Regions from separate parts of the Homo sapiens genome. Here region 1 is linked to region 2. The links come from fine-mapping of genetic effects on gene expression. A gene starts in region 2. The other region holds a variant in brackets. All regions are shown on one strand. Distances are between the middles of the regions. Region 1 holds the start of SYPL2 (synaptophysin like 2). Region 2 holds the start of CYB561D1 (cytochrome b561 family member D1).

Evidence for each region. PIP is the estimated chance that this variant, and not a neighbour inherited with it, causes the effect. A credible set is the group of variants that fine-mapping cannot tell apart.
Region 1: its variant is the best candidate, but not a certain one, in a credible set for the expression of CYB561D1 in whole blood (INTERVAL, PIP 0.57).

What each region holds. Positions count from the first base shown.
Region 1 is chr1:109,464,829-109,474,800 of GRCh38, reverse strand. SYPL2 (synaptophysin like 2) reads right to left here and starts at 8,255. Exons shown (of 6, transcript NM_001040709.2): 1 at 7,904-8,255; 2 at 7,668-7,742. The coding sequence starts at 7,957. RefSeq lists enhancers at 7,823-8,322, 8,323-8,824. The variant T/C (reference allele first, on the strand shown) is at 6,474.
Region 2 is chr1:109,489,268-109,497,267 of GRCh38, reverse strand. It overlaps CYB561D1 (cytochrome b561 family member D1), which reads right to left and starts at 3,174. Exons shown (of 3, transcript NM_182580.3): 1 at 2,981-3,174; 2 at 2,088-2,125; 3 at 1-1,512. The coding sequence starts at 3,128. The coding sequence ends at 1,009. It overlaps ATXN7L2 (ataxin 7 like 2), which reads right to left. Exons shown (of 11, transcript NM_001350175.2): 8 at 7,140-7,338; 9 at 6,876-6,997; 10 at 5,551-6,346; 11 at 4,534-4,682. The coding sequence ends at 4,668. RefSeq lists enhancers at 2,534-3,034, 3,024-3,103 and silencers at 3,174-3,403, 6,362-6,411.

The DNA of each region.
Region 1 (9,972 bases), 23 kb after region 2:
TTAAGATCCAGAGGTGTCTCAGGTCACTCGAATTGTTTTCTTCTCCACCTTTCCTCACATTTTACTACACCTTCTCTCTCAAGTGAAATAAAATTTCCTCATCCTATGATTTTCAGATTTCTTTCTGGGAAACACACTTTGGTTAGAAAAGGAGGTGAGAGGCCAGGTGCGGTGGCTCACACCTGTAATCCCAGCACTTTGGGAGGCTGAGGCGGGTGGATCATTTGAGGTCAGGAGTTTGAGACCAACCTGGCCAACATGGTGAAACCCCATATCTACTAAAAATACAAAAATCAGCCTGGCGGTAGAGTGTCGCATGCCTGTAATCTCAGCTACTTGGGAGGCTGAGGCAGGAGAATCACTTGAACCCGGGAGGCGGAGGTTGCAGTGAGCCGAGATCGTGCCACTGCACTCCAGCCTGGCAACAGAATGAGACCTTGTCCCTCTCCCGCCCACCGCCAAAAAAAAAAAAAAAAAGAAAAGAAAAGAAAAGAAAAAAGAAAAGGAGGTGAGAAATTGAAATGTCTTATCCTCCACATCATCTGCTCAGATTGGATTTCCTGTGCACTTACCTTTGACTTGTACACAATGTCATGTTCTTATTAAGCAATGAGCTTATTCTCTTAATTGTTCACTCTCTGTATCTTTCTTCGAGACTCAGTGTCTTGGACATTAAGCACTTGGAAGACAGCTGATCTGTATGTCAGCCCTGCATCCAGAGTCTAGAATAGAAGCTATATGCACTTTATTTTGCCAATGCTTGTTAGCATTATGGAGTGAAAGGAGACCTGAACTAGGAGTATGGAAACCTAGGTTCCAGACCTGGTCCTGTCACTAATTAGCCAGGTGAGCTCTGATAAGTCACTCTGCTCTCTGAGTCTGTTTCCTCATCTTTTTTTTTTTTTTTAGATGGAGTCTTGCTCTGTCGCCCAGGCTGGAGTGTAGTGGCGCAATCTTGGCTCACTGCAAGCTGCACCTCCTGCGTTCACACCATTCTCCTGCCTCAGCCTGTTGAGTAGCTGGGACTATAGGCGCCCACCACCATGCCCAGCTAATTTTTTGTATTTTTTTTAGTAGAGACGGGTTTTCACCGTGTTAGCCAGGATGGTCTCGGTCTCCTGACCTTGTGATCCGCCCGCCTCAACCTCCCAAAGTGCTGGGATTATAGGCATGAGCCCAGCCTGTTTCCTCATCTTAAATGGAGGGGTTTGGAGTAGATAATCTAGAGGCCCTTTCCAGCCCTGGAACTCTCTCACTCTCTGAGAGTAACACTGTCAGTGTACTCTTGACTGGGCTTGCCAACAGCTGTGCTTTGCCCCTGCGAGGTGTCCAGTGCCACTGCCCCCGGCTTGCAGCGCCTGGCCTTGCAGATCTCCATGCTGGAGCCATTGGCCTCTCTCCAAATAATGGGCACCTCTCTGTTTTCAGGAGGTTTATTCCAGACAAATGAGAATTGTCTCCATGTTTAAAGATATCTGGGAAAGAAGACAGTAAAACCTCCCTCCAATGCCTAAATACCCTCCTCTCCTGAATTAAATGATGAAGACTGCAGTAGAGCCCTGTCTGCCCGCCTTCTTCACAGAGGTAGAGAAGAGTCACTCGAAGCCTCTGCATCATTACCCTTTACTTACTCAAAGTGGCCTCACCATTGTAATAGTGGAACTTCTCTAACTCTTCCTCATAGGAATTCGCTAATCTTTTGTCAGTTCTGTGGCCATCTGATTCCTCTTAGAAGTTTCTTTATTCCTCTTAGCTTCTGGTGCCCAGAACTGGATGTGATTAGGGTGTCACATTCTGGGAAGGGCAGCACAGTTGGAAATATTTTTACCCGTTGGCAGTTAGTCAGTGAATGGCTCCTTATAGGTTCCTTAAGAAAGCAGGGGCCGGGCATGGTGGCTCACAGCTGTAATCCCAGCAGTTTGGGAGGCCAAGCAGGAGAATGGCTTGAGCCCAGGAATTTGAGACTAGCAACATATAGGCAACATAGCAAGACCCTCCCCTACAGAAACTACAAACAAAAAATTAGCTGGGCATGGTGGTGCCTGCTAATAGTCCCAGTTACTCAGGAGGCTGATGGGGAGGAATCACTTGAGCCCAGGAGTTCAAGGCTGCAGTGAGCTATGATCATGCCACTGCACTCCAGGCTGGGCAACAGAACAAGACCCCCATCTCAAAAAAAAAAAAAAAAAAAAAAAGTAAAGAAAAAGAAAGTAGGTACTCAAAACTTGGGGGCAGTGAACGGTCAGTTATGGAGCCTTCTCTTCACCAGCACTCTCCTGAAAGGCACTCCTGAGCATCTACAGAAAGATAAAATTTAAGAGCATGTACTATGCCTAGCATGTACAGTGCCTACTATGCATGGTTCCAGGCACTATTATCTAGTAGTGAACAAAAGAGAAAAAAGGCCAAGCATGGTGGTTCATGCCTGTAATCCCAGCACTCTGGGAGGCTGAGGTGGGAGGATCACTTGAGCCCAGGAGTTTGAGACTAGCCAACTTTTTATTTAGCCAAGAAAAATTAGCCAGGTGTGGTGATGCACATCTGTGGTCCCAGCTACTCTGGGGGCTGATGTGGGAAGATCTCTTGAGCCCAGGAGGTCAAAGCTACATGATCACACCACTGGACACCAGCCTGGGTGACAGAGCGAGACCCTATCTCAAAAAAAGAAAAAGAATAACAAAATCTCTGTCCTCATGGGGCTCATACTCTAGAGCTGCACTATCCAAAACAGTAGCCCCTAGCCAAGCTTGATTATTTAAGTTTAAGTTAATCAGAATTAAATTAAATAAAAAATTCAAGCCGGGTGCAGTGTCTCAGACCTGTAATCCCAACACTTTGGGAAGCAAGGTGGGAGGATCACTTGAGGCCAGGAGTTCAAGACCAGCCTGGGTATCATAGCAAGACTCCATCTCTACCAAAAAAAAAAAGTAGTCGGGCATGGTGGTACATGCCTGTAGTCCCAGCTGCTGAAGTGTGTGGATCACTTGAGCCCAGGGGTTCAAGGCTGCAATGAGCTATGATCACGCCACTGCACTCCAGCCTGGATGACAGAGTGAGACTGGATCAAACAACAACAAAAAAGTTCAGGCCGGGTGTGGTGGCTCATGCCTGTAATCCCAGCACTTTAGGAGGCCAAGGCGGGCAAATCACTTGAGGTCAGGGGTTCGAGACCAGCCTGGCCAACATGGCAAAATGCCGTCTCTACTAAAAAAAAAAAAATTCAGTTCAGTCACGCTAGGCACATTTCAAGTGCCCAATAGCCTCATGTGACTAGCAGGTACTATCTTAGAGAGCACCGATTCTAAAACTTTTCCATTATTACCAAAAGTTCTGCTGTGTCTAAACGACGGTCCTGAGGTTCTGACAATCCTGAATCATGCTTTCGGATTCCTCAGAGGGCAAAATACACCCACAATAACTTTAGTATTTATTGTATTCTGATTCTTTTCAAGTCAGGGATCTTACACGATGATTTTTTATTTACCAAAATATATGTTTAAATCTGAACACTATACAGTCGGATGGTACCAGAGCAAAATGAGAACATCTGAGGGGAATCACAGGTTCACAGAACAGCAGAACAAAAGGGACCTCAAAGATTCTCACACCCAATCATCTCATGTCACAGAGGGGGACTGTGAAGCCCCAAAAGATTAAGTCACTTTCCCAAAGTCACATTTAGTTAATGTGAGAGCCAGGCTTAGAATTCACATCTCCTGATTCCCTGTCCAGTGCTCTTTCCATTTCATTTGCTCATTAACTCAACACTGATTGAGCATCTACCTTGTGCCAGGTGCTGGAGATATGAAGACGAATAACACCTATCTCCTGCTCTTGAGAATTCACATCAAGAAAGGAGCGTCATAGCAAAACAAACAAACAAAAAATAATAAAAACAAACACTGCATCCCAGAGTTATTGAGGCTAAAGAAGAGATCTCTACCATGTGCATTGAGGATTACAAGGAGGGAAGGAGTAGCTCTGTGCCTTGGGGTGCAGAAGCTCAGAAAGACACTTTCTCCCAACCCCCTCCATGTCTCCTAACCCTCCATCTTTCCACTCCAGATTTGCTTTCTTCCCTAACTTTGCCAAGTGACTGAGACACAGAGAAGAGAAGGAAAGAACTAAAATCACCCCTGTCACCAAGCACAAGGCTCTGAGATGAGCAAACTGGTTATAAAGAGCAGCCAAGGAGAGGTAGAGGACCTGAGACAAGGGGGAGTTCTAGCATTCTGGTGCCAACCAGCCTTTCTCCTCTTGGACCTCCATTGCTGGGACAGCGACGGTCATTTTCTGCCCTCCGCCTCCTCTTGCTTCTGCATCTCTTTTGCAACCTTAAACCTTTCCAGTTTAAGGATGAGGCTCCCCTTTGGCACTGACATGCTCGCTGGTGATAATCCTGTGACAGTCCTGAGGACACTAACATCACCAGTTAGCTCAGAGCACAAGGAAGACAAATTCTCTCCCCAGGTCCTACTCCCACGCTTATCTCATTGTTTTTTGTTTTGTTTAGGCGAGGTAACAGGCTCATGCCTGTAATCTCAGCACTTTTGGAGGCTGAGGTGGGAATATCACCTGAGCCCAGGAACTCAAAGCCAGCTGGGGCAGCATAGCAAGACCCGATTTTTACAAAAATTTTTTACAACTTAGCTAGGCATGGTGGCATGTGCCTTTGGTCCCAGATACTTGAAAGGCTGAGGTGGGAGGATTGCCTGAGCTTGGAAATTTAGGCTGCAGTGAGATGTGTTCGTACCACTGCACTCCAGCCTCAGCGATAGAGCCAGTCTCTATCTTAGAGCCTGTCTGAAAAAAAAAAAAGATTTGATATTTACTCACTCAAGGTTCCAGAGCTAGAAAGCAAGAAAGCAGAGGGGACTCAATTTAAACCGAAGCCTATCTGACCTCAAAAATCTGTCTCTATCTTCCTTTTTCTTTTGTTTTATTTTCCTTTTTTTTTTTTTTTTTTTTTTTTTGAGACAAGGTCTAGTTCTGTCACTCAGGCTGGAGTGCGCAGCTCATTGCAGCCTCGACCTCCTGGGCTCAATGATCCTCCAGCCTCAGCCTCCCAAGGAGCTGGGACCACAAGCATGTGTCATCACACCCAACTAATTTTATTTTTTAATAGAGACGCGACCTCCCCTTATTGCCCAGGCTTGTGTCAAACTCCTGGGCTCAAGCAATCCTCCCACCTCAGCCTCCCAAAGTGTGTCTTTTTCTTAAAAAGAAAATTTTTTTTAAGATACTTCTTTTCTTTTCTTTTTTATCTTGAACTCCTATGATTTGATGTCCTTTTCTTTTTTAAAAAAAAACTAGTTCTCCAATAATTGGTCTATGTCCAGGTTATTTTTGCTAGCTTAGTATAGACTTAGTGAGACTCCAGAATTGGAATTGAGGTGAGATTAGTTGATTTCTCAATTAAAAAAAAAAAAACTCTAAGATAAGCTCCTGACAAATAAAAGAATAACATTACTTTCTTTTCACAAAGATTCCAGTAAAATCTTTGCTTTTTGGTAATAATGACAACAAAAGTTCTCAATTACCATTACAATAACTGCAAGCTTTGTGTTTTCTTTTTTCCTTCTCCAATCAGGAGCATTTGATCCCTCCAAACAGGAAATGAGTGAAAAACTCAAATGACATTTCCACTGTCATTTCTGGTGCTAATGCCTGTTTACTTTTTATGTTACCTCATCTGCAGAGCTTCAAAGCAAGTGAAACTGGCGCCCTGAATTCAGGCTACCTGGGATGGCAATAAAAGCAAAGCACGTTTCTTTGTGATGCTACCCTGTGAATGAAATCTGAATTCAGAGTCTAGCCCAGGGCCCAGGTTTTAGCATTCTGAGAGAAAAGGGTCTCTGTTTTGCACAACCCCCTTTCTAAGTACTTGAAGATCATAAAAGTCTATCAGATCTTAATTCCTAGGTCATTAGTGCTGACCCCAAGACTGCATCATTTCCCTGGGCATTGCTTTGTACAGCCTTTACAGAAATGTTGTGGGTATTTGGAGTGCTGCGTGGAGGGAAGGATGGCAGGATTGAAGAAGGAAGCTTTTCAGAATCCCTCCAAGGGAGAGGAGTCCATGGTCTAATAACCTCATTGTTTCCCTTATCCTTTGACAGTCTGTCTCAAATTCTGTTGGATCCATTTGTCTAATTTAATGGTAAAATTGCTTATAATGGCTCTTCCAGTTCTGGATGCCAGTCACTCAGAGCCTTAATATCATTTTTATATGGCTCCCTCTGGCACTTGAGTGGTGGATCAGAACAGGGAAGGGGCCAAAGGCAAAAGAGCTCAATCAGCAATTGGTCTAACCACTCTTGAGGCAGTAAGAAAGGTGGAGAGTCCCCACCAGGTCCCAGAGTTTGCACTTGGGAGCTCCCAGGCTGGCCCGATAATCCCAAATGCACTTTTGCCCCTGGGTTCCAGATTTGATTATTCTCATCCAAACCATGATTTAAGAACTGGTGTCACAG[T/C]GCTAATTCTTGTCTCCAAAGCCCTGTAGAACTCAATCCTCCTCAGTATTAATGGTAACTTATTCCCTAGCTGAATTCTGTACTGAGAGCACATTAATTAAGTTATTCACACACCATTTGGTATGTGGATTGTCTAATTTAAAATCTCTTCTGCAATAGTGCACTAAATGCCCCCTACAAGTCTTTATGATTTGAGAAATTGACTGCACCTGTCCACATTCCTAATTTATACCCAGGAGGCCTTAGGCACTGGCCTAGTGAAGCAAGATAGTATTTCCACTAGACTGTAACAGGGGAAACTGAGGACCTGAGCAAGTGACTTTTTCAAGGTCACAAAGTAAGTCTAACCTAGGGCCATATTCTGGCACACCAAACTATTTAGAGCATAAGGAGACCCTAGGAAGGTTCTGATCAACATCTAACTAGTGTTGGAAATTGAAGTCCAGAGAAATGAATTGCCCAAGGTGACATAGCTGGAAAAGGCCAGTCTAGGTCTGGATCCCAGGGCCCCAGCTTCTCAGATCAGTGTTCCATTTTATTCTACATGCCACATTTTAGCCATGCCGTGATTTTTATTCTTATTTTTTTCTTTTATTTAATCATAGAACCACAAGCTCCGTTCATTCATTCATCCACTCCCTCACTCATTTACAGGAACTCGGATTACTCCAGTGACCTCAAAAGGGAACGGCGAGCCGAGAGCCTGTCCCCTGAGCCCAGTACTTGCAGGATCATCCAGGCCCTGGTGGGTTTGGGGGCAGGACGGTTTCCATCGCCTGCTTCCTTCCCTCCTTTGCCCTCTGCGGCTTCCCTCTTGGTGAAGAGCGGACCTCGTCCCCGTCGTCCTTCTCCCCCCTCCCGTCACCAAGGAGTGGTATGTGCAGGATCAGAGTTCTGGAAAGGTTACACCCGGGTCCTCTCGCCCGGGTGAAATGTGAGCGCCCTGGGCAAAGGCTCCTTGCACATAGAAGGACCGAATCCGGGACTCCGCATGCCTCGCTCTTCACCCTCCTGCCACTAAGTCCGGAGAAGCAGCCCCAGCCCGCCCCTCCCCCGCCCACCTGTCGCCGCCCCCCACCCTTCCGCCGTGGCCCGGCCGCAGCACCTCCCCAGCCCCCACCCTGGCTCCATTGCTTCAGGTCAGCGTCACAGCCCAGGCTCCCGAAATAGCCCGGGGCCGGGGCAGCGACTCACCCACTGGAGAACTTTGATGAAGCCCAGCGGCTCCTCCAGCCGCCGCCAGCGCAGCCCCACGAGTAGGCGGTCCACCTGCGGAGACACAGCCGGCCGGGGGGTCAGGGCGGTGGGGAACCCTGGGAAGGCGCTGGTCCCCTTGCCCCACTCACACGCGGTCCAGGGGTGGGATAAGTGTGCAGCCCGACATCTAGGTGGAGAGGGGCGGGTGAGAGTCCTGGGCGCGCAGGGACTACCTGCTGGCGCGGCGACTTGTCCGCCGTGCGGCCGGCGCTCTCGGTCGAGGACATGCTGGCGCGGCGAGCGCTGGGCGCGGCGTGGTGGCTTGGCTCTCTGGCCGGGAGGCGGCGGACACGGCGGGGGAGCGGGGAGCTGCAGGTCCGGGGCAGAGCAGGCGAGCGGGGCCGGAGCGCGAGCGGCCGTCGGTGGGCCGGAGTCCAGTCTGGCTGGCTGGCTGGCTGGGACGCGGGGGCGCTGCTGTTCGTGCTCTCAGAGGCTGCGGCCGCCGCGGTGCCCCGCCGGCAGCAGAAAGCCCCCGACTCGGATTCAAACTTCTGTCAAACTCGCAGCGAACTTGGCCGCCGGGTCACGTGGCGTGCGCTCCCGAACCCTCCTCCCGCCCCCTCTGCTCCCTTTCTCCGCTCGCCGGGCACCTTAAAGGGACCAGAGGCCTCCGTGGTTAGTTCCGCCGCGGGGCGGGGGGGACTCCGGGTCCTCCTCGCCGAAGCCTCCGGGACCGGTCCCCACCGAGACACCGCGGCCGTCGGAAACCCTAGCCAGGCGCACCTGGACGCACAGGCTTCAGGTTTATCCTTCCCTATTTTCCTGGATTGCAAACTGCCCAGCGCCGGTTTTTCTCCTCTTCCATACCAGAATATCCAGAACGTAAAAGATTCTCAAAAGGCACGATCAGGGCTGTGAAACAAGGTTCTAAGCCTCACGATTAACATACCGCCAGTACCGACAAAAGGGCGATAGAATATAAGCTGCTGATTTTTTATCCTGTCTAGCTAGGTATTGTTTTGATTTTTTTTTAAAACAACAAAAGACATTTGTATGTTAGTGATTTAAAAGTTATTGGCCAGGCTTGGTGGCTCACGCCTGCAATCCCAGCACTTTGGGAGGCCGAGGCCAGAAGATCACGAGGTCAGGAGTTCGAGACCAGTCTGGCCAACATAGTGAAACCCCGTCTCTACTAAAAATACAAAAAATTAGCCGGGTGTGGTGATGTGCGCCTGTAATCCCAGCTACTCAGGAGGCTGAGGCAGGAGAATTGCTTGAACCCGGGAGGTGGAAGTTGCAGTGAGCCGAGATCGCGCCATTGCACTCCAGCCCTGGCGACAGTCCAAGACTCTGTCTCCAAAAAAAAAGTTATTAATCTTTAACAAGTAGAAACTTAATCTCCTTTAAAATGGTCATTACCATTTAAATGAGAGTGAAAAAAGGTCTTTGAGGAATGAGGCGCAAAGAATATATTGAAACGTACTGAAAAGTTGACGTCTGGCTAGGCGCGGTGGCTCAAGCCTGTAATCCCAGCACTTTGGGAGGCGGAGGCGGGTGTATCACTTGAAGCCAGGAGTTCGAGACCAGCCTGGCCAACATGGTGAAACCCTGTCTCTATTAAAAATACAAAAATTAGCAGGGCGTGGTGGCACGTGCCTGTACTCCTAGCTACTCCGAAGGGTAAGGCACGAGAATTACTTGAACCCGGGAGGCGGAGGTTGCAGTGAGCCGAGATTGCACCACTGCACTCCAGCCTGGACAACAGAGCAAGACTGTGTCAAAAAAAAGAAAAAAAGAAAAAGAAAAAAGGCAGACAGAAGTGGGGAGAGAGAGAGAGGAAAAAAAAAGAAAGAAAAAGAACGGGAAGGGAAGGGAAGAAGGGAAGGGAAGGGACTGGTTGGGTTGAAGTCGTTGCATTTTTTTAACTGTAACTTGGTCTCTAACTTTTGAAAAGCATTTGGCAGGGGTGAGCAGTTGAGAATATTCCACACTTGGTTTACGAGAGCATAAATATAAGTAGTAAAAGGTTAAGTGATTTGTCCAAGGACAAATTCCTGTGCACTGGCTTGTAAATATGTATCCGTCTCATCCAAGTCATTCCTGCAGGTCCGCCCCCCCAACCGCTCCCCCCAGCACATCAGAATGAATGCCTTTTGAACAAACATTTGGCTATTATCTATACAAGTCGCTTCCCTATTGAGTAAGTGCCTTCCCAGAGCCTTGGGATTTAGAGAGAGACGTGAGGAAGGCAGCTCGGGCTGGATCAGGCCACATGGACTTGAAGGAAACTTCTCCAGTGGAT
Region 2 (8,000 bases):
CTATGTGCTAAGGCAAGAACCTGAGCCCTAAGAAGGGCAAAGCATGAGATGCCTGGGGCTCCTTTGCCCTGAGAAGTGATTTCGGGGGAGGGAGCGCACGCAGGCCCTGCAGCCCTCAAGCCCGGATCCTGAGGTGGGCTGAAGGAAGATCTTAGCTGGGCTAGGCAGCCCAGCCAGCAGCCTTCGGCTTGGTTAAGCCAATGCCCTCCTGCTTCTCCAAAAGCTTTAAAGTGACTTTAGTGCCTTTACCGTCTTAGAGTCCAGAAGACCCTCACCTGAGTCCCTTCTTTCCACAGTGCCTGACCCCCTGTGCCCTGGCACAGGGACCAAATCAGCACAAATTTCTGAAGGGCCTCAAGGGCAGAGCTGTCCCTCCAGGGTAGTAAAGGGAGAGTAAAGAACTACCCCCTGAGTCTGCTAAGTGGTCCACGTGGTCCACAGCTGGGAGAGTGTTCTGAGACATCGACCTGACAGACGCTGTATATTAGAGAAGGAAGGGACTTAGAGATTGTTTAGAAACATTTCACAGATGAAGAAACAGTGGTCTTAAGATATGGAATGTACCTAAGGTTGTACAACAGAGCCTAAGAGGACCATATCCCATAAATAAGACCCATGGGCTCTCTCCACTACATCACACTGCTTTCTTAAAAGTAACCCAAATATCCCTGGATGCCATTCATAACTTACAGGAACCCAGTTTTTCATCAGGCACACAAGCAAGAAATGACCACCAGCACATCACTATCACCACCCAAAACTCTGTCTCTCATCAAGTAGAGGCTTCAGGATCAGGCTCTCCATCACCTTCCACTCATACCCAGTACATCTCCCCATTTTGACCCACTGAATTATTCCTCAACAATAGCAGCTTTGGTTTCTGCAGTCCCTGGACCAGCCAAGAAGTGCGAAAACCTGACCACTTCTTAAATAGATCCCTTATAGATCACCAAAGGAACCATGATGTTCAAGGCAAGCGTCCCACCTAGATTCAGCGTTCGCAGGAACTCACATTTCCATTTTCTTCCTCGGCAAGTAGGATCTGGAAATCTGGTGCATGATCACCAGGGCTGGATAGACGGGCAGTGCCAGGCACAGGTACCAGGCCGCACCTTTGATCTGGGCCTGGAACCATACTGAGTACATGCCCAGAAGCACCGTTACTGTAGCCATCAGGTAGACCACCAGTCCACATGTCAGATGGTAGAGCTTGAGGCGAGCCACCCTTGAGACCCTGGCTGCCCGGGGACAAAGGAGGCAGAGCCCACACAGTGCCTGGACAGCAGTGGCCAGCAGTGTCAGGGCTCCCACCCAGCTGTGCCAGGACACCAGATGAGGCAGCTCACTGCGGGTCCTGCTGGAGATGATGAAGCCCAGGCCCAGAGCTGCACAGAGGATGGCTAGGGTCTGCCCTGCCCAGTGGAGCCGGATCCGTGCTTTTCGGGAGCAGAAGAAGAACAGGGAGTGTTCAGGTGAGAAGAGTAGGATGGCTTCAGCCATGCAGAGGCAGAACTGTGAACATAGGAGAGAGCCAGTAAGCCTCATGTCTGGCTTGGAGGCCTGAGAAAAAGGAGGTGCTCTCATACATCCTAACAAAGAGGACAAAGGGTAAGGGTTAAATAAGTTCAACCAGGACCACCAGCCTCACAGCTCAACATTTCTGGGAACATTTGGGAATCAGCACTTGAGTGCACGTCTCCTCATTCAGGTTGACATCTCCCCATCCCAACCTCTACAATGACTCCCATTTCTTGACCAGTGGAGTAGCAAATGTTAAACTTCTTCCTGAACTTTGGGGACAAGTCGGGAGATGACCGGATAACACCTCTCCCCCCTTCTCCTTTCCGGCCCCAATGGAGAAAGAAATTATCTTCCATGCCCTCCCGCCCTTTTCAACCATCTGACAACTGCCTATGGCCCAGCCCTCCAGGTTTCCCAATCCCATAGGCTGCAGGGAAAGATGAGCCCTAGATGTTTCCTCCACCTGTCTTAGCCTTAGAAAGGCTGAGCTTTCTGAAAGCTGGGTGCTTCCCTGGGAGAATGAGGTGAGGAATACCCAAACAAATCAGATAGAAGCCTAAACTCACCGCCAAGGCCATGAATACAGGGTGCCAGGAGAAAAGACCTAAGAATCAAAGAGAACAGGCTGAGGGCTTGGTACCATTGTTCCTGCCCCTGTAGCTAGGTGGAACCCAAAGAATCTAGCCACAGGAGAAAAGTACCATCCCCAATCCTAATCGGGCACAGGAACTAAGGACAAAGTGGAGCAGCCAAGGAGCCCCAGGGTGAGCAACCAAGAGGGCCTCCTTATCCACACACATACAACAGTTTGGCCCGGGTTCCCCGTTCAGCACCTCTCAGCTGGCAGCCCAGTCCTCTGCCCCTTTTTTGTTTTTTGTTTTTTTTGGTTGTTGTTTTTTGTTTTTTTTTTGATACGGAGTCTCGCTCTGTCGCACAGGGTGGAGTGCAGTGGTGCAATCTCGGCTCACTGCAGCCTCCACCTCCCGGGTTCAAGCGATTCTCCTCCCTCAGCCTCCCAAGTAGCTGGAACTACAGGCGCGCGCCATCACGCCTGGCTAATTTTTGTATTCTTAGTAGAGACGGGGTTTCACCATGTTGGCCAGGCTGGTCTCGAACTCCTGACCTCAAGTGATCCACCCGCGTCGGCCTCCCAAAGTGCTGGGATTTCAGGCATGACCCACCGCGCCCGGCCTCCTTCACTTCTATCCTCCATCAGGGGACCTGTTTCTGAGGAAGTAGTTCGGTCTGTTCAATCGTCTGCCCTTCCCCCACAGCACCCAAAACCCCATTATTCCAGGATCCCTGGGGCCCCGCCCCACCAGGCCCTCAAAATCCCTCCACTGTTTCTGTCTCCCCTTTACTGCTGGGGTCCCTCCTCCAAGTCTCCCGGGGCTCCCAAGCGCTGCCCCTCCAGCATCTCCACTCCGCCCCCTTCCGCAACCCCGCCCCGCACACTCACTGGTTCCTGGCCGGGACAGCGCTGTCAGAAAGATGGTGAAGCCCAAAGCTACCAGGTGCGCCAAGATCCCACTGCCTCTCCGCAGCCAGCGGGTCAGTCTCGGCTCCCCAGCTGGAGCGGGAACCAGACCTACCTCCAGGGGCTGCATGGCCGTGGCCCGCGGGCCCGTACACTCCAGCTGCCCGAACACGTCTTCCGGGTTTGCGATCGCGGAGGCGGTGGCGGCTGCAGGAGAGGCTCCTCCCCGGGGACGCCGCCGGCAGTGCGGCGGAGTGGCCCACAGCGCCCTCTGGGGGCTGGGGGGGAAACGCGAGTGCCCCGGAGAGGCCCGCTCCCGCGAGAGCCCGGAGGCAGAAGGGGACCGAACAGTTCCCAGCCCACCTTCATTTGTATCTGTGTGTCTGTCTACAAGGGCCTAAATCCCAAGCAGCCTGTGGAAATTACTTTTGTGGCAAACGATTTCAGTGAAACCCCAAATCACACACTTGGTACGCTGAACCAAGACTGTGAAACAAGTGTTTGGAGCCGATTTCTAGTAGTACTGGATTTCCCTGGCTGTGCACTGTCTCCTGTCACCTCATTTTGTCTTGTTCAGGGAACAAGCTTCCTCCATGCCTAAGAGCAAGGAGAATAGGAAAGGACATCGCCAAAATATAGTGCCTTGAACCTGGTGGACCAAAGGAGGGAAATGCAAGTCTCCTCTCGCATCTGCACGGGAGTGGTCCCCAGCGAGATAAATGGAAAAACTAGGGCACTCCCAGCCCTGCCGCCTCCTCAGCAGCTGCTCAGCCCTGAGGAGCCAGGTGATCCTGAAGGACCAAGGCCTCCCACACTCCTGTGGCCTCCCACACCACCAGTTCTGCAAGTGATGATGCCTTTTCCCTTCCTGCCTCCAAAAAAGGGGTGGTTCAACCCAAGGAGGCCTCCCTGGGAAAGGTTCTACCCCTTCCTTAAAGGCAAACCCACAGGCAGGGAAGGAAGGCTGTCCAATAGAAAACAGGAATATCCCAACAGCAATGACCAACCCAGCTCAAGCTCCCTAAGTGGCTGAGAAAATGAGGCTGCAGGAACAGCTGAAGAAAAGCAGGCAATAATTCAGGGAGGGATGGATGCCTAGGGTTGCTGAAGGACCAGAAAAGGGTCACAAGCCAATTCCCAGACCCTCGGGGCAAGGATCCTAGAAAGAGCCAGAAGTGCAGCTCCCCCTCTCGAGTTTCTCTTCCCAATGGGACCATAGTCGTCTCTGGTGTCAAGACTCAGGAAGCCTTACTCATTCAGAGCCACACGCCTCATCATCCTGTCTGGAAAGACTACCCCAGTGACACAAACATTTTTCACACTATTGAAAATGACAAGATGACAATAATAATAATAATGAGCATAAGAGACTTTTGCAGGCAAGCTATGGGAGCTGGAGTCTGGCTGCCTATCATCTCAGCCTCCCAGGGTAGGGCTGGGGACAGTAAGGACACTCATTTTGTTATTTTTTTTCCTTCCTTTTCTATGTTTCTGTTTTTATATTTTCATAGCAGCAACAGAACAGGGAGACAGTCTTGAGGTATTTTAAAGAGCTTTTTTTCTTAAAAAAAAATAATATAAAGTTATAAAAAGCGGCAGCAGCCTGGGGCCCGGATCTGGAGGGGAGGAGGTGCTGGCGGCTCCGTTGCAGTGGGCAGGCACTTTCTCGTTAATGGGCTTTTGACTGCAGGAAGACAAGAGGCGAGAGAAAGGGTCAGGGTGGGGGCCTACCAGCTGTCCTACCCAGTGAACTGTGTGCACTACAGAGGCTAAAGCTTGATTTCCTTCTGCTGGCCTGGTGAGTAAAACTGAGCAAGGGGGAAGATGAATGCCAGCTCACCAGGGGCAGCCTGGGTAGTGAAGCTGGAGAACACACAGGGTTTATGATTAGGCCCACATCTAACCCAGGAGAGCACCCCCGTCCCACCTCCAGTAAGTCCCTCCTGGCAGAGATCATATGGAGAGCACATAGCACACTACACCAGGGCTCCCACCAGAAGAGGCAAATAAAACTGGCTGCAGGCTTTACTGGAAACCCTGGAGAACTTGCCTGTCACCTGCACACCTGGAGGTGGGCACATGTGCATAAGTGGACATGGGGTTGTGTGCCTGCCCTTCAAGGCCCTGATGCCCAGAGGAAAAACCAGTGAGACCAGCCCACCCACCTTGCTGCTCGGCATGTTAGGCTGTGACCCAGGGACTCAAACTCCCTTTCCTTCAGGGAACAGAGGTAGCTCCAGTACCTGGAATGAGGGTCACAGCCAATTCAGAAAGAAGTAGCCCTTTGATTATAGCAAAAGCAGGGGTGGAGGGGTGCCGCATCTCCTCAGCCCAAGGGAAAGGGTTAGGGATAGGGGAAGGTTCACCAGGCAAAAAGCTGGAGTCACTTTGCTAAGAACTGACCTACCTCTTCCTAAAGAAAACAGTCCAGGAACTCTCTCAACTTCCCCTTCCTCCCTTTCCCTGCACAAACACCAATGTAGCATCTTCTCTGTATCAGGTACCCCCTGTGTGCCCCACCCTCATCAATCTTCAGGGAGCCTGGCTGGTACCTTCAGTGTAGAGCACTTCTCCTCAAAGGCCAGGGCCGGGCCTGGCTTCTTGCGGCGCACAGAGCAGGCCACATCAGCAGGGGCACCAGCCTGACAGTGCTTGGCCTTCACTGGCCGGCAATAAGTGGCCAGGTTTTTCCGCTTCTTGGCCACCTCCTCCTCAGAGAGGCAGTTGGTTGGCAGGGCCTTGGCTGGGTGTCCAGCTGCTCCCCGGTTCTCCAGCTGAGAAGCCTTGACTGGTGTGGGGAGCTGATGAGGGGAGCCACGACAGTCCAGGGGCCCTGCCCGCTTCACTCTTGGCCCCATTGTCCCATTAAGCCCCATGCTCAGGGCTGTTTTAGTTTTGGCCGAGAGGCCCCTACAGCCAGAGGGTTTCCCTTTTCCAGTGGGCTCCAGGATGCAGGTCCGTTTAAGAGTGGTAGGGCCAGGGGATAACTTCCGCTTTCGAGAAGGGGCCTCCACCTCCACCCCGTCCTTGCCTTTGGATGACTTGCTGGCCTTGGAAGGCGGCAGCTTGCTGAAGGACGGGGATGGCGTGTTGGCAGGCAGTGGTGAGGTGATAGCCTGGCTCCCGCCCATGCACTCTGCCTGGCTACAGGCAGCCGCCACGCTGGGGGAGCCTGCAGGGTAGCTGGGGACAAGGTTGTCCTTGGTGGGGGGCATGGAGGCTGGGCAGGCAGGTCTCAGGGTTGGACCTGGAAGGCGGGGGCAGGTGCCTGTAGAGGATGGGCTCAGGGGAGCAGATAACGGGGAGTTGACAAGGTGAGCTGGAGGTTCAGCTGCCGGTGGGATCTTCCTGCAGCAAAAAGAAAGCCCCACTGTGACTGCCAAGAAACAAGACAGCTTCCCCCAACACAAGACACACTCCAGTCTCTCTGCCCCACCTAGAAATGGTCAGCAGAGCCCCAGAGTTGCTGCCATCTGCTGGGAGATGCTGGAACTGAGGGTTAGGAAGAAGACACAGGGGTGCCTGTGGAGAGGAATTAGCTAGTACCTACTAACTAGGAGGCAGCCCACTAGGAACTTCATTTTAAATCTTGGTTTGGGCATCCCCTATCCCTAGTTACCCAAAAGGTACTGGAAGTGATGGATGAAAGTCTAGATTCACCCCCAGACCACCCTTCCATGCCCTGCCTTAGCCAAACTCTAGGCTGCCAAGTTTTCCCACCTCCTTTTCATGCTACTCCCTATCTGGGGTCCTGCTGGCAAATAGCCAAGGCACACCTATGGGTATACAGGAAAGATCAGGGCTTCTGAAGCCCAAGTATGTCTGGAACCTAGGAATTTCCATTCTAGAACTTCCATTCTGGGTCCGAGAGACTTACTTCCACATGTGTGTGCTGAGGTGCCGTTCCAGCATGGAGCTGAGTGCTGAGCAGAACCGGTCCAGCCGGCGGCTAAACACATAGCATCCTGGGCTCACCAGCCGGCTCCCAAAGGTGCAGAACTAAAGGCAGAAGGAAGGTGCATGGTTGGCAGGGTCTGGGGTGCACAGACAGCATCTGCACACAGGATCTGGCCTCCTCCCCATGTTGTTGGCCAGGAGTGCTGGGCCACCCCCTCCATAGGCCCCTATTCCAGGTCCTTACCGCCTGTGGCCGTGGGGGCCGGGTTGCATAATGGCAGTCAGGGGGTGGGTGGAGGTCGTCAGATGTCCCCTCCTCCTCACTCTCTTCGCTGGAGGCCTGGGTCCCACCCCGGGGCATGGGGAAGGGGAACAGGCCTGGGTCCCCATCACCACCACAGGGGCCTTCATCATCCAATTCACTCTCGGAGGAGGCCCGGGACCTGGAAGGGCCAAAAGGGATGCCAGGGGAATGTGACTGTTGTGGGGTCAGAGTAGGGGCATCCTTGAACCTGCCGAGCTCAAAGAGCAGGGCACCAGGGCAGACACCCTGCAGGGCAATCAGAAGAGGACAGAGGGAAGGGAAGGACAGGAGGGAACGACACAGCTCACAGAGTAAGAGACAGAGAGACTGCTCCCAAGGGATTCTCTCCCCAGCCCCTTCACCTCCCAGCCCCTTCCTCCTCAGGGGATAATCTGCTGCAGATCCGCCTCCTCCAGAAAATCTTCACAGTTAAAACTGTACCCAGCTCTGGTCAGCCCAGTCAACTCGCTCAACCCCCTTCTTGCATCACATATTCCTGTGAGCCTGTCTGTGAGCTGAGCCTGTGTTTCGTGTCTGCCCCTTGTGTGACAGGCAGAGATGCATGTGTGTCTCCTTCAGCAAGTCAGGCTCTCCCTGGGGTCCGGCATAGCCTCTGCACGCGAAGGGGCCAGTGAGTGAATACACATAGGGCTGCCTTGCCCAGGAGTGTGACCCTTTCAGCTCCCCAGTGACAAGTTTCGGTCTGTTGGAGGCAGCTGGGAAAATGTTCATATCCTGAGTGTTGGATCTGGCACACTGCCGAGAGGCTGGGGTGCTGTGGTATGCCTGGTTGGAAACAGG